Regions from separate parts of the Homo sapiens genome. Here regions 1 and 2 are each reported to be linked to region 3. The links are microRNA targets in miRTarBase. Many come from high-throughput screens and were not tested one by one. Region 3 holds a microRNA gene; each other region holds the end of a gene's coding sequence.

Region 1 (4,061 bases), not on the chromosome of region 3:
CCTGGGCTGGTGTGGGTGGGAAGGAACCGAGTCAGCCTGGGTCACTGCTGCCCTCCTGTCCCCGCAGGTCCACAGGATGCTCAGGAGTATGGGAACTACCAGCCAGGGTCCCTGTGTGGCTACTGCTCCTTCTGCAATGTATGTCCCCAGCCCAGATCCACCCACCAAGGTGTCCCCAGAATCTGTCCCAGGGGCCCTGGGGTGGTGCTGTGGGAGGGCTCAGAGCAAGGGCAGGCCAGGGTCAGTTCTGAAAGAAAAGAGATCCTTCTGCAGGCATGTGAGGTGAGGACAGACTGAAGGCTGGGAGGCTGGGGCAGTGGTCCAGGAAGGAGAGGACAAGACCCAAGCTGCATCTTGGGGTGTGGGGACAGAGACAGGGGTCTGTGGCAAAGAGAGTCGGGGGAAGGAGGGATGGCACAGGGGCTGATAGGCTAGGGGGAGAATAGGCAGAGAGCGGGTGGAGAGAGCACCTGAGCCCACCCTGACAGGGAGACATGGGGTCGCCCTGAGATAGAAAACCAGGGGCAGGGCCGGGTGTGGTGGCTCACGCCTGTAATCTCAGCACTTTAAGAGGCCAGGGTGGGCGGAACACGAGGTCAGGAGATCGAGACCATCCTGGCTAACACGGTGAAACCCCATTTCTACTAAAAAATACAAAAAAATTAGCCGGGCGTGGTGGCACGCACCTGTAATCCCAGCTACTCAGGAGGCCGAGGCAGGAGAATCGCTTGAACCCGGGAGACGGAGGTTGCAGTGAGCTGAGGTTGCGCCACTGCACTCCAGCCTGGGCGACAGAGAGAGACTCCGCCTCAAGAAAAAAAAGGAAAAAAAGGGAAAGGAAGGAAACCAGGGGCAGGGGAGGGGAGGGGAGGCTGGTTTGGGGGGCAGATACAGAGCTCAGTGTTAGAGATAAAGAGGGTAGAGTCTGGGGAAGCGTCCAGGGTGCAGGGGTGGGCCAGGGGCGGGTACCTCCCAAGTGGCGTTAGAGTTTCCATCTAACCAGGCTCCCCCGGTCCCCAGCGATGCACTGAATGTGAGAGCTGTCACTGTGATGAGGAGAACATGGGTGAGCACTGCGACCAGTGCCAGGTGAGACCTCACCTCACACTCAAGGCTCCACTGGGCCTCAGGATGCACCGGGACCCTCTGAGGACCCCCAGCCCTAAATCCTGGCCTCTGACCCAACCCCTTACCCCTGATGCAACCTTGACTCCACAAGCGATCCTGACTCCAACCTTAACCTAGACCTAGCCTCTGGTCCGGGTCTGGTCCCGGCCCCATCCTAACTCCGCCCCCGGCCACGCCCCACGCTCACTCTCTCTCCCCGTCCCCGCCTCCAGCACTGTCAGTTCTGCTATCTCTGCCCGCTGGTCTGCGAAACGGTCTGCGCTCCAGGTGAGCATGGGCGGGGCCCTGGAAAAACCTGAGGAAGGTGCCGGGCCCAGCGTGGTGAATCCTGGTGGGGGCGGAGCCTGGCCCGGTAGGCTGGTGGGGCGGGGCTAAGAGGGGAGGCGTGGCCAAGGCTCTGAGCACGTGGGCCGGGGCCTGGCTCGAGGAACACCAGGTGGAGTTGCTGGAGCCAAGGGACAGAAATGAGTGGAGGGTTGAGATGCGGGCTTAGAGCCTAATGGGCGAGGCCAACTCAAGTAGGAATCGAAGGGGCGGGGCTACTGGAGAACGGAATCACCCAGAACGAAAAAGGGGTCCGGTAGAAGGGATTCAGTTGGAAGAAGGAATTAGGGAAAAGGAGGTGGAGCTAGCACTAATCTCGCACGCTATACTGAGTGGCTGCCTAATTTTGCTCGTGCAGTACCCCTCAAGCCTCTTTTCTCTGCTGTCCCACAGGAAGCTACGTTGACTATTTCTCCTCGTCCCTTTATCAGTAAGTGTGTAAAAGGGGAGCGTGTAAAAGCCCCGTTTAGAGAAGTGCTTGTCTCGCTATGAGTTATCAGATGACTCTGGGACTCCATTTCCCCGTCCATGAAATGGGCAGGTTAATGATCTCTAAGCGTCCTGGGGTGGGCTTTGAACACCAGCTGTCTAACTTCTGGCGTTCTCGTCTCCAGGGCCCTGGCAGACATGCTGGAAACGCCGGAACCCTGACCCAGTCGCTCGACTGCGACGCAGGTGTACCTCCCCCTGCCTTCCAACCCCTTTCCACGAGCTATATTTATTTCTCCGAATAAACGTGCTCCCCGAAACCTCATTGTCAGACGTGGGGTCTGGGAATCTCAGGGCATCGGGGAATGCGGGTAGGGTCTAGAGACCTGGACCTAGACTTGAGGGATGAGGGGCCTGGACTCCTGGCTCGAGGTGGTTGGTTGAACAGCCCCCCCCCCCCCCGCAAAAAAAAAATCAGTCAACAAGGAAGCTTTTTGAAACAGTTCTCTTTACCCGTGATCACTGAGTGACGCCTGGGGCGGGGAGGCCGACCGAGAGTCGGGGGCGAGGGCTCCCCCACCGTCCCCCTGCCCCCACGCCACGTCGCCCAGCGGCATCGTGGAAAGAGGATTCTCCCATGCAAACCCCGGAGCCAGAGGAGAAGGGGAAGCGCCATTCTGCGCCCCCTACCCCCGGGGCACGGACACGGCCACAGCACGGGGGGCGGTGAGGCCCCGGGGACACGAGACACGGGGGAGGGAGAGGGGAACCCGCCCGCAGATGACCCGGGGGACCGGCGACCGGACGCGGCGGGGCGGAGCTGAGTGGCACAGGGGGCGAGGCTTGTAGCAGCGAGTCCCCCCTCCCCTCCTTTCGGACGAAGAAGGAAGACTTGGGCCCCGCGACTGGGCAGGAAAAAGGGGAGGGAGCAGCCTCTCCCCGCATGCGGCCCGGGAGGGAAGCCCCGCCCCCTTCCCGCGGGTAAAGGACACCCGTCTCCCAACAGAAACTGATCAATAAATTACAAAGTAGAGAAAAGGAAAGCGGACGTTTGGGGCGGGATTTCTTCCTCCCCGCTTCTTCCCCCTCTCAGTCCAGTTCATGTGGTTTGGTCCAGGCCCCGGCCCTGTGCGAGGCGGGCGCGCGCACTCCCGCTGGTCTGTACAGATGGTCCAGTCCTCGGCGCGAGCTCCCCCGCCCGCTCTCCCCGGCGAGGCCACAGTCCGGGCAGGAGAGGGAACAGCCCAGCCTCGGGAAGATTCTTCCGTCCGAGTGAGGTCACCTGCATGACGCCGGGCAGCGCGTGGAGCAGTGAAGATCCACCGTGCCGCCCCGCACCCCCAAGGTCGCCCAGCACGGTCCTCACCTGGAGGCCTGCACTAGCAGGAATAGGTCCGGACCGAAACGCCGTCTGCCCGGGAACTCCCAGAAGTCTGGCCTGGAGGGAGAGCGAGCAGCGGTTCAGCCTGGAGCACCCTCCTCCCTGTTCCTCTCCAGGATTCCTCCCTTTGGACTTCCCTTCCCGATGTCACAACGATCGCCGGGCTCCACATGGGTTTCCCTCCCTTCCCCGCAGCCAAGGACTCAAACTCGCATTGGGCGAGTTCACTCCCGCCCTGGGAAGGGGGAGTGGGATTTATCCATTTCATCCTGACGGGGGAGTCCGGAACGTTGGAGCAGTCCATTCCTCAGGGGTGGGCGAGAAAGGACTAGGCCATTCCAGAACCCGGACTACTGAGGTGGTCCATGCCCCACCCTAGGGAAGCGAGGAAGGGCTGTCGCATTTGGGAGCCCCCCACCTTCTGGCTGCAGCTTGCGGAGAGGGAGCCCCGGAGAGCCCAGGGCTCCCGCTGCAGCCGAACGAAAGTTGGGGGGCAACATCTCAGCTGAGTCGGGAGTTACGCCTCGGAGGTCCTTCTCCCGGAACATCTTCCGCCAGGATGGGGAGCGGCTGAAAGACTTGGCGCTGTCCTAGGTATAGGAGCCGGACAGCCGGTGAGGGACTCCTGCCTTGTCTGACTCCGCCCCTTCCTTTGACTCCACCCCTCTCCGGGTCTCACCTCTCCTTTAACCCCGCCCCTCTCCTGGCCCCGCCTCCAACCGTGACCATTAATAGTCAGGCCCCGCCCCCTCAGCTCAGCCTCTCGAGGAGCCGCTGGGAGCAGAGCCCTCTGAGCTGT
Region 2 (4,061 bases), not on the chromosome of region 3:
CCTGGTGGAGGGGATCTTGGGCACTGGTAGCAGCAATTCTTTATCAAGTTATAGGCTGAAGATGAGCCTTGAAGCCAGGGTGCCGGGAGGAAGGGACATCTCATGCCCCTTGCTGTTTTCTTCCTTTTTTCTCCATGCCCCAGAGCCTGAAAGTGCTGTCCTGTGCCTGCCTCCACCTCTTTAACGAGCCTCTTTTCCTTTCTTTTTCTGTGTCTTGTCTGTCTTTTCTTCTTCTTGTCTTCCCCGCCCTGTCCTCCGGATTCCTGCTACCCCTTCTAAAGATACTACGCGGACTTCCTGTATCCCCCGGAGCTGAGCGCTCGTTTAAGTGACCTGACGCTAGAGGGGGAGCAGTCCTCCAGTTCTGACACCCAGACCCCGGGGACACTGGTCTGACCCCTTCTGATATGTCCCTTGTTGGCCTGGGCACGATTCCAATCTGGGGAGCACACAGCTGACCTCGCTGGGCCCTGGGGTGTGGTTGCTCTCAGTCCTGAGCAGAGTGCGCCAACCTAATCTTCCAAGGCCCCTGGCTCCCCGTAGGCCCAGGAAGGTGTCTGACACCCTGCTTCTTCTCTCACACTGTGCTGGGGACTGGGGGCCCTCAGCTAGCTTAAAAGAGGGGGGATGATGTCATGGGGACCCCAAGCCCCTTCCTCCATTTATGTTTACAGTTGTGACTTAGGTATTCACTGTCTTCCTCCAACACTAGGCGTTTTACAAAAGGGAAACTGTGATCTCATCTGGTTGGGTTCATTCCTGTTCCCATGCCCAACCAGGTTCCATTCAGGAACCCCCTCCATAAAATGGACCATATCGGGTCTCAGGGCCATTTAGGGCAGCCAGGAGACTCCGGTGTGAACAGAAATCCCTGCCACGCATCGCCAGGGCAGTTGGGGCAGTGGGCTCTCTGCCCACACTTGGAAGGACTGCAGTCTGGGTGGGATGCCTGAAAGAGCCCAACCCCCTCTGTGCCCATGGCCTCTGCCCTGACCACCCCCAGTCAGGAGGCCCCACAGGAGGGGCACCCGGTAGATGCCAGTGAAATCCTCAGGTGAGGTCTGCCTACGGGCCACGGGCCACTCACCACTCACACCTTCCTTGGCTTTCCTTCCACCCTTTTTTTTTTCTCGAGACGGAGTCTTGCTCTGTCACCAGGCTGGAGTGCAGCGGCGCAATCTCAGCTCACTGCAACCTCTGCCTCCTGGGTTCTCCTGCCTCACCCTCCCGAGTAGCTGGGATTACAGGCACACGCCACCATGCCCGGCTAATTTTTGTATTCTTAGTAGAGACAAGGTTTCACCATATTGGCCAGGCTGGTCTTGAACTCTTGACCTCGTGATCTGCCCGCCTTGGCCTCCCAAAGTGCTGGGATTACAGCCGTGAGCCACTGCACCCAGCCCCAATCCACCACTTTTTAAGCAAACCCACACAAGTTGTGTTTTCTATGATACCTGTCTGTGATTTTCGGAGCTGGGGGTTCCCCTACCCCCTTTTCCTGGCGTTAAGCTTTTCTTTTTATACCAGTGGATCTGGACCCAAGACATTACCCACACTGGAAGGGGATTTGTATAATAAATGTGTAAACTGAACCCATGTGTTGCTGCTCTGTCTGCCTCACCTTGAGGACCCACACCTCTAGTCAAGACCAGATAATATATTTTTGCAGGAAAAAACATACCTTGGGAATAGCCTGTGATAGTGTCATCTGTTTTGACTTTACTTGCTTTGTGATGTGGGGCAACTTCTTTGCCTGTCTGCACTCAAATTTCTAGCCAACCTCAAACAATAACTCTTGGTAATATAAATGGTGATAACAAAGACTCTGTCCTTAACCTCCCTATACATTTTTTAAAAATTTTTATTTTTTTGAGACAATGTCTCACTCTGTTGCCCAGGCTGAAATGTAGTGGCGCGATAACGGCTCACTGCAGCCTTGACCTCCTGGACTCACAATCTTCCCACCTCAGCCGCCTGAATAGCTGAAACTACAGTTGTGCACCACCATACCCGCTAATTAAAAAAGAAAAAAAAATTGTAGGCCGGGTACGCAGTGGCTCACGCCTGTAATCCTAGCACTTTGGGAGGCCAAGGTGGGCAGCTCACGAGGTCAGGAGATCAAGACCATCCTGGCTAACAGTAAAGCCCCGTCTCTACTAAAAATACAAAAAAAATTAGCCGGGCGTAGTGGCACGTGCCTGTAATCCCAGCTACTCGGGAGGTTGAGGCAGGAGAATCGCTTGAACCCGGGAGGCAGAGATTGCAGTGAGCCGAGATCATGCCACTGCACTCCAGCCAGGGCGACAGAGCAAGACTGTCTCAAAAAAAAAAAAAAAAGTAGAGATGGGGGTCTCATTATGTTGCCCAGGTTAGTCTCGGACTCCTAGGCTTGAGCAGTCCTCCTGCCTCAGCCTCCCAAAGTGCTGGGATTGCAGGCGTGAGCTACCATGCCCAGCTTTTTGAGACAGGTTCTCACTGTTGCCCAGGTTGGAGTGCAGTGGCACAATCACAGCTCACTGCAGCCTCTACCTCTTAGGCTCTGGCCATCCTGCCACAGCCTCCCAAGTAGCTGGGACTACAGAAGCACACCACCATGCCCAGCTAAATTTTAATTTTTTTGTAGCAATAAGAGTCTTGCTATATTGCCCAGGTTGGTCTCAAACTCCTAGCCTCAAGTGATCCTCTAGTCTCAGCCTCCCAAAGTGTTGGAATTACAGGCGTGAGCCACTGCACCTGTCCTTCCCTGTGCTTTAATGCTGATCCAGAGGTCATAAGTTCAAGGAAGGGCCTCAGAGATCACCTCTTCAGCCCACATATTCAGGAAGAGTCTAGCAGAATTGAAAAGTAGGCCACTTCTGTCCTTTGAAATGTACAAGGACTTTACCCAGGAGGCTCAAATTGGCATGAGAGATGCAACAGGCTTTATTGTTGCAGCAACACTAACATATACGCCCCATTCCCTGCTGAGGCCTGTCCCCACCTCACCCCTTGGTTGTCGATGGTGTGGAACATTGGGGTGAGGGGCAAAATGCCTAAGCAGAGCTGGAGGGAGGCAAATGGGACTGGTGAGGGTCGGGATCACCTGGACCAGGGGTCCAACAGTCAGGATACCCGACTCCATCCACACAGGGGCATGGAACACTTGGGTTCTGAGTTCAAGATTTGGCAATGTCTTGACCTGGGTTGGAAGGTAGGGTGGGGTCTGGAAAAGCTTTGGTCCAGGGTTCAAGATTTGAGAGTGCCTTGCCCCAGGCCCCAGTTTGGGGATGAGCATGGAGAAGGGTGGATGGGAGTGTCTCTGGGTTCACAATTTGAAATTGGCCATGGATGCTCTGGCCTGAAGCCAGTTTTGGGGCTGGATGTAGGTGGCTCTTGGTCCTGGGTTCAAGGCTGGGGAAGACTCTTGTCCCTAGGTAATGGGGGCTGGGTGTGAGGGATATCTTAGTTTGGGGCTGGCGTGGGGGTAGGGCGGTCACAGATGTCCTGTTTTGTTTGGGCAGGGGGCTCTAGGCTCCTGTTTTAAGTGCTGGGAAAGGGCTCTGGGTCCCAATTATGGGCTGGGGGTGGGGTGGTATTCTCCAGGTCCTGGGTACAGATCCCAGGGGCCTAGGATCCAGCCTCCTGCTCTTGTCCCAGTGCCTCTAGTAGCAGGCCCATTGGCGTCCGCTTGAGACCAATGCTCTCGATCTTGTTCTCAATCTTGTTCTTAAGGTTGCGCAGGCGCAACGAGGCGTGCACCAGGATCACTGTGGGCGGCACCGAGAGGGGTGGTCAGTGGAATAGACCTCAGCCTGCAGCCAACCGGGGCCCACCGAAGGGAATTGGCGCGCAGGCAGGCCAATGGAGTGGTGAGCAGCCAGGACGCCTCAGATACTGAAAGCGTGGCCGAGTAATTGGCTTGGCAACGTGGGCATGGCCAGGGAAGACGCCCGGTAACGGGGACGTGGCCAGTGGAAGGCACTTAACACCAAGAGTGAGATAGGAAAGGCGATAATAAAAGGGGTGTTCCCAGAAGGGGGAACGAAGCCCGGGAAGGCGCTTTTAGCGGGGGCGTGGCGAGG
Region 3 (4,064 bases):
TGTGCCTCCCCACTGGTACCTTCTTGTTTTATTGTGCCCTTGGCCCCTGACACTGGCGACACCCCCTGGTTCTGCTCACTGTGGTGCTGTGTCCCACAGGTGACTTTCCAGCAGATCTGTAAGGATGTGCATCTGGTGAAGCACCAGGGCCAGCAGCTTTTTATTGAGTCTCGGGCCCGGCCTCAGTCCCGGCCCCGCCTCCCTGGTGAGTTGATGATGATGTGTGGGTGAAGAGACAGACCTGGGGGGTCCCCTGACCTTCACCCCCAACCCATTTGCTGTTTTTTTCCATGTGAGCTTGAGAAGGCTATTTTCCTCTTTCTCTCTTTGCCCCAGCTACAGGCACGTTCAAGGCCAAGGCCCTTCCCTGCCAATCCCCAGACCCAGAGCTGGAGGCGGGTTCTGCTCCCGTCCAGGCCCCACTAGCCTTGGTCCCTGAGGAGGCCGAGAGGAAAGAAGCCTCCAGCTGCTCCTACCAGCAGATCAACTGCCTGGACAGCATCCTCAGGTAAGGCCTGCCAGGCATCTTCTCCACCTCGGGCTCTAACCCTGCCCACCCCAAGCCCTGCTCTGATGCCCTGTGCTGTGTCCATCCCCAGGTACCTGGAGAGCTGCAACCTCCCCAGCACCACTAAGCGTAAATGTGCCTCCTCCTCCTCCTATACCACCTCCTCAGCCTCTGACGACGACAGGCAGAGGACAGGTCCAGTCTCTGTGGGGACCAAGAAAGGTAAAGATCCAATGCACCCTGCTCCCACTGCCCCGTCCTGGCCTGGTGGCCCTGTGTCTTTTCCCTTCTGCTTCTGGGCCCTCTTGCTCTGCCCTGCTCTCCTCCCCAGCCTCCTGGTCTCCAGACTGTTCCCTCTGTTCCCTACCACCATCCCCTTCCCCTTTTCCCTGGGATCCTCTCTCCTGACTTCCCAGTGGGGGTGGGGATGGTAACTGGCACCATCTCTCTGCACAGATCCGCCGTCAGCAGCGCTGTCTGGGGAGGGGGCCACCCCACGGAAGGAGCCAGTGGTGGGAGGCACCCTGAGCCCGCTCGCCCTGGCCAATAAGGCGGAGAGTGTGGTGTCCGTCACCAGTCAGTGTAGCTTCAGCTCCACCATCGTCCATGTGGGAGACAAGAAGCCCCCGGAGTCGGGTATGGGTGTGGAATTGGGGGGCAGTGCTTGGGCTCCACCGGTCTCCCAGCTAGAGCTCCCTCCTGCCTTTCCCCTCCCCTCTAGGGCCTGATGGAGAGAAGGAGGCCTCCCTTGACCTGGGGCTTGGGGCTACTGCTTCTTGCTCTCCCCTCCCTGCCAGGCTTCTCGGCTTTGCCCTTCCCCTGTTCTGCTTCTCGTATTGTTACTGTCAGTTGAAACACAGAGTCTGGGATAGAGGGTTTGCCCTGAGGTGCTGACCACACAGGGTCTGAAGGCAAGGAAAATTGAACATCCCTGAAGGGTCTTTGGATATTGACCTTGAAAATCATGAGGGGCTGGGCATGGTGGCTCAGGCCTGTAATCCCAGCATTTTGGGAGGCTGAGGTAGGAGGATCACCTGAGATCAGGAGCTCGAGATCAGCCTGGGCAACATGGTGAAACCCTGTATCTACTAAAAATGCAAAAATTAGCCGGGCGTGGTGGCGCGCGCCTGTAGTCCCAGCTACTCGGGAGGCTGGGACAGGAGAATCGCTTGAACCCAGGGGGTGGTGGTTGCAGTGAGCTGAGATCGCACCACTGCACTCCAGCTTGGGAGAAAGAGTGAGACTCCATGTCAAAAAAAAAAAAAAAAAGAAACAAGAAAATGTGTGAGGGAAGGCCAAGGGGTGGGCTTCTCTTCCAATGAGAGTTGTGACGGGGTCATCCCAGTAGAGTTCCTGGCAGGGAGTGGCCACTGGAGGGGCCTGAGTATCGTCTCTTCTTCTGGGCCAGCTTTGCATGGAGAGGAGGACCCAGGGCCAGCCGTTGGCAGAGAGGTGACCAAGAAACGTACATGGAGACCAGGCTTGGCTGTGGGGCAGAGCTGCCAGGGGTTGGCTAGGCTATCAGACAGGGAGGGTGTGGTATGGATGTGTTGACCCCTGAAGTGGTTCTGATGACCTTTCCCTATCTCACTCTCCTCAGACATCATCATGATGGAGGACCTGCCTGGCCTAGCCCCAGGCCCAGCCCCCAGCCCAGCCCCCAGCCCCACAGTAGCCCCTGACCCAGCCCCAGACGCCTACCGTCCAGTGGGGCTGACCAAGGCCGTGCTGTCCCTGCACACACAGAAGGAAGAGCAAGCCTTCCTCAGCCGCTTCCGAGACCTGGGCAGGCTGCGTGGACTCGACAGCTCTTCCACAGCTCCCTCAGCCCTTGGCGAGCGAGGTAGCCACCTGGGGCCTCCTGGAGCCTGCCCTCTGCCCAGTCTAGGACTGGATTGTTGGGGGGTGGGTCTTAAGGGAGGTGTTTCTGCTCCAGGGACCCAGGCTGGTGTTGCTTCCACCACTAGGCCCTGCCTAGGGACAGGCCCCTCGCTAGCTTCTCCCCACTAGGATGGGGTTCCGGGCTGCAGCCAGAGGAGGGCAGCCTGGGGGGATGGCACTGGGATGGGCAGGCAGAGGTGCTGTCTCCAGGTAAGCGACTTCAGGCCTAGCCTGGGGGCAGGGGCAGGAAGTATGCCCACTTAGGAGTCAGTTGTCACTGATGAAGAGACATGCATAGATTCTGGGCCAACTCTGGGTGGGGTCTGGGCTTCAAGGGCAGGTGGAAGGCAGCCCCTCCAGGTGCCTGAGGGAGATCCCCTGCAGGCAGACGCAGGACTCAGGACTGGGCTTTCCAGCCCCACTCTTCACTCCATTGCAAGCTAGGCAGAATACGGCCTCGATGGGCAGGAGGAATGCCTAGGCTGGCAGTGCCCACAGGAGTTTGGCGGACCAGAGCCATCTGTCCATGTGTCCATGGACTCACCCTGCTTCCTCCATCTGCCAGCATGCCTCCATCTTCCGCACACCCCCAGCTCGACCCCTCGTGTAACCTCTCCCTGGCCTTGTTCCTTTCTCAATAAATCCCCTTGTCCCTGGCTCCTGTGATTCTTCCCTGAAGGTGCCCCACCTCCTGAGTCCCCCGTTCTGTGTGGGTTGAGAAGCTCTCTCTGGGACCTTGGCCTGTCCTCTCCCTGGTCAGCGTGTCAGGGCAGTGTGGGTAGCAGGGGTACTAACCCCAGGTTGAGGTCCTTGCTAACCCTAGTCTCTCCCCACAGGCTGCCACCACGGCCCCGCACCCCCAAGCCGCCGACACCACTGCCGATCCAAAGCCAAGCGCTCACGCCACCACCAGAACCCTCGGGCTGAAGCGCCCTGCTATGTCTCACACCCCTCACCCGTGCCACCCTCCACCCCCTGGCCCACCCCACCAGCCACTACCCCCTTCCCAGCGGTTGTCCAGCCCTACCCTCTCCCAGTGTTCTCTCCTCGAGGAGGCCCCCAGCCTCTTCCCCCTGCTCCCACATCTGTGCCCCCAGCTGCTTTCCCCGCCCCTTTGGTGACCCCAATGGTGGCCTTGGTGCTCCCTAACTATCTGTTCCCAACCCCATCCAGCTATCCTTATGGGGCACTCCAGACCCCTGCTGAAGGGCCTCCCACTCCTGCCTCGCACTCCCCTTCTCCATCCTTGCCCGCCCTCGCCCCGAGTCCTCCTCACCGCCCGGACTCTCCACTGTTCAACTCGAGATGCAGCTCTCCACTCCAGCTCAATCTGCTGCAGCTGGAGGAGCTCCCCCGTGCTGAGGGGGCTGCTGTTGCAGGAGGCCCTGGGAGCAGTGCCGGGCCCCCACCTCCCAGTGCGGAGGCTGCTGAGCCAGAGGCCAGACTGGTGAGCACTGACCCCTGCGTCTGCCTGCCAGCCCCCACCCCAGCCCCGCCCCTCTGCCACCCTGTGCTGCCTGCTGTCTCTGCCAGGCTGGCGTCTCAGCCTCCAGGAGGTGGAGGGAGTCCCCAGCTGAATTTCTGAATGAGGCAGAAATTGGCTACCTCCTCTTTGAAGGGACAGTCCTGTCTGTCTGACAGGTGGTGAGGACATCTCAATAACTTCTGAGAGAGC

The links. Region 3 holds the annotated microRNA hsa-miR-6883-5p (AGGGAGGGUGUGGUAUGGAUGU, at 2,036-2,057, shown strand). A microRNA usually pairs through its seed, bases 2 to 8, with sites in the 3' UTR of a target mRNA and lowers its output. Matches are read on the target gene's strand: a 7mer-m8 pairs with bases 2 to 8, a 7mer-A1 pairs with bases 2 to 7 and ends in A, and an 8mer does both.
Region 1: the mRNA of PPFIA3 is a reported target of hsa-miR-6883-5p. Seed matches in the 3' UTR shown: 7mer-m8 at 2,834-2,840, 7mer-m8 at 2,802-2,808 and 7mer-m8 at 2,635-2,641.
Region 2: miRTarBase lists CCDC120 as a target of hsa-miR-6883-5p. Seed matches in the 3' UTR shown: 7mer-m8 at 1,223-1,229 and 7mer-A1 at 1,357-1,363.

Annotation. Positions count from the first base shown.
Region 1 is chr19:49,149,338-49,153,398 of GRCh38, reverse strand. PPFIA3 (PPFI scaffold protein A3) reads right to left here. Exons shown (of 30, transcript NM_003660.4): 28 at 3,681-3,852; 29 at 3,248-3,319; 30 at 2,373-3,163. The coding sequence ends at 3,261. HRC (histidine rich calcium binding protein) reads left to right here. Exons shown (of 6, transcript NM_002152.3): 2 at 68-138; 3 at 1,021-1,089; 4 at 1,341-1,395; 5 at 1,846-1,882; 6 at 2,067-2,201. The coding sequence ends at 2,103. Among named protein-coding and RNA genes, the nearest start is that of HRC, 4.0 kb to the left of the region's middle. RefSeq lists enhancers at 1,458-2,067, 3,657-3,876.
Region 2 is chrX:49,068,263-49,072,323 of GRCh38, forward strand. CCDC120 (coiled-coil domain containing 120) reads left to right here. Exons shown (of 11, transcript NM_001163321.4): 11 at 282-1,592. The coding sequence ends at 396. PRAF2 (PRA1 domain family member 2) reads right to left here. Exons shown (of 3, transcript NM_007213.3): 3 at 2,899-3,746. The coding sequence ends at 3,607. Among named protein-coding and RNA genes, the nearest start is that of PRAF2, 3.7 kb to the right of the region's middle.
Region 3 is chr17:8,143,038-8,147,101 of GRCh38, reverse strand. It overlaps MIR6883 (microRNA 6883), which reads left to right and starts at 2,031; the gene lies at 2,031-2,108. PER1 (period circadian regulator 1) reads left to right here. Exons shown (of 23, transcript NM_002616.3): 14 at 100-205; 15 at 337-508; 16 at 600-730; 17 at 965-1,144; 18 at 2,109-2,351; 19 at 3,226-3,836.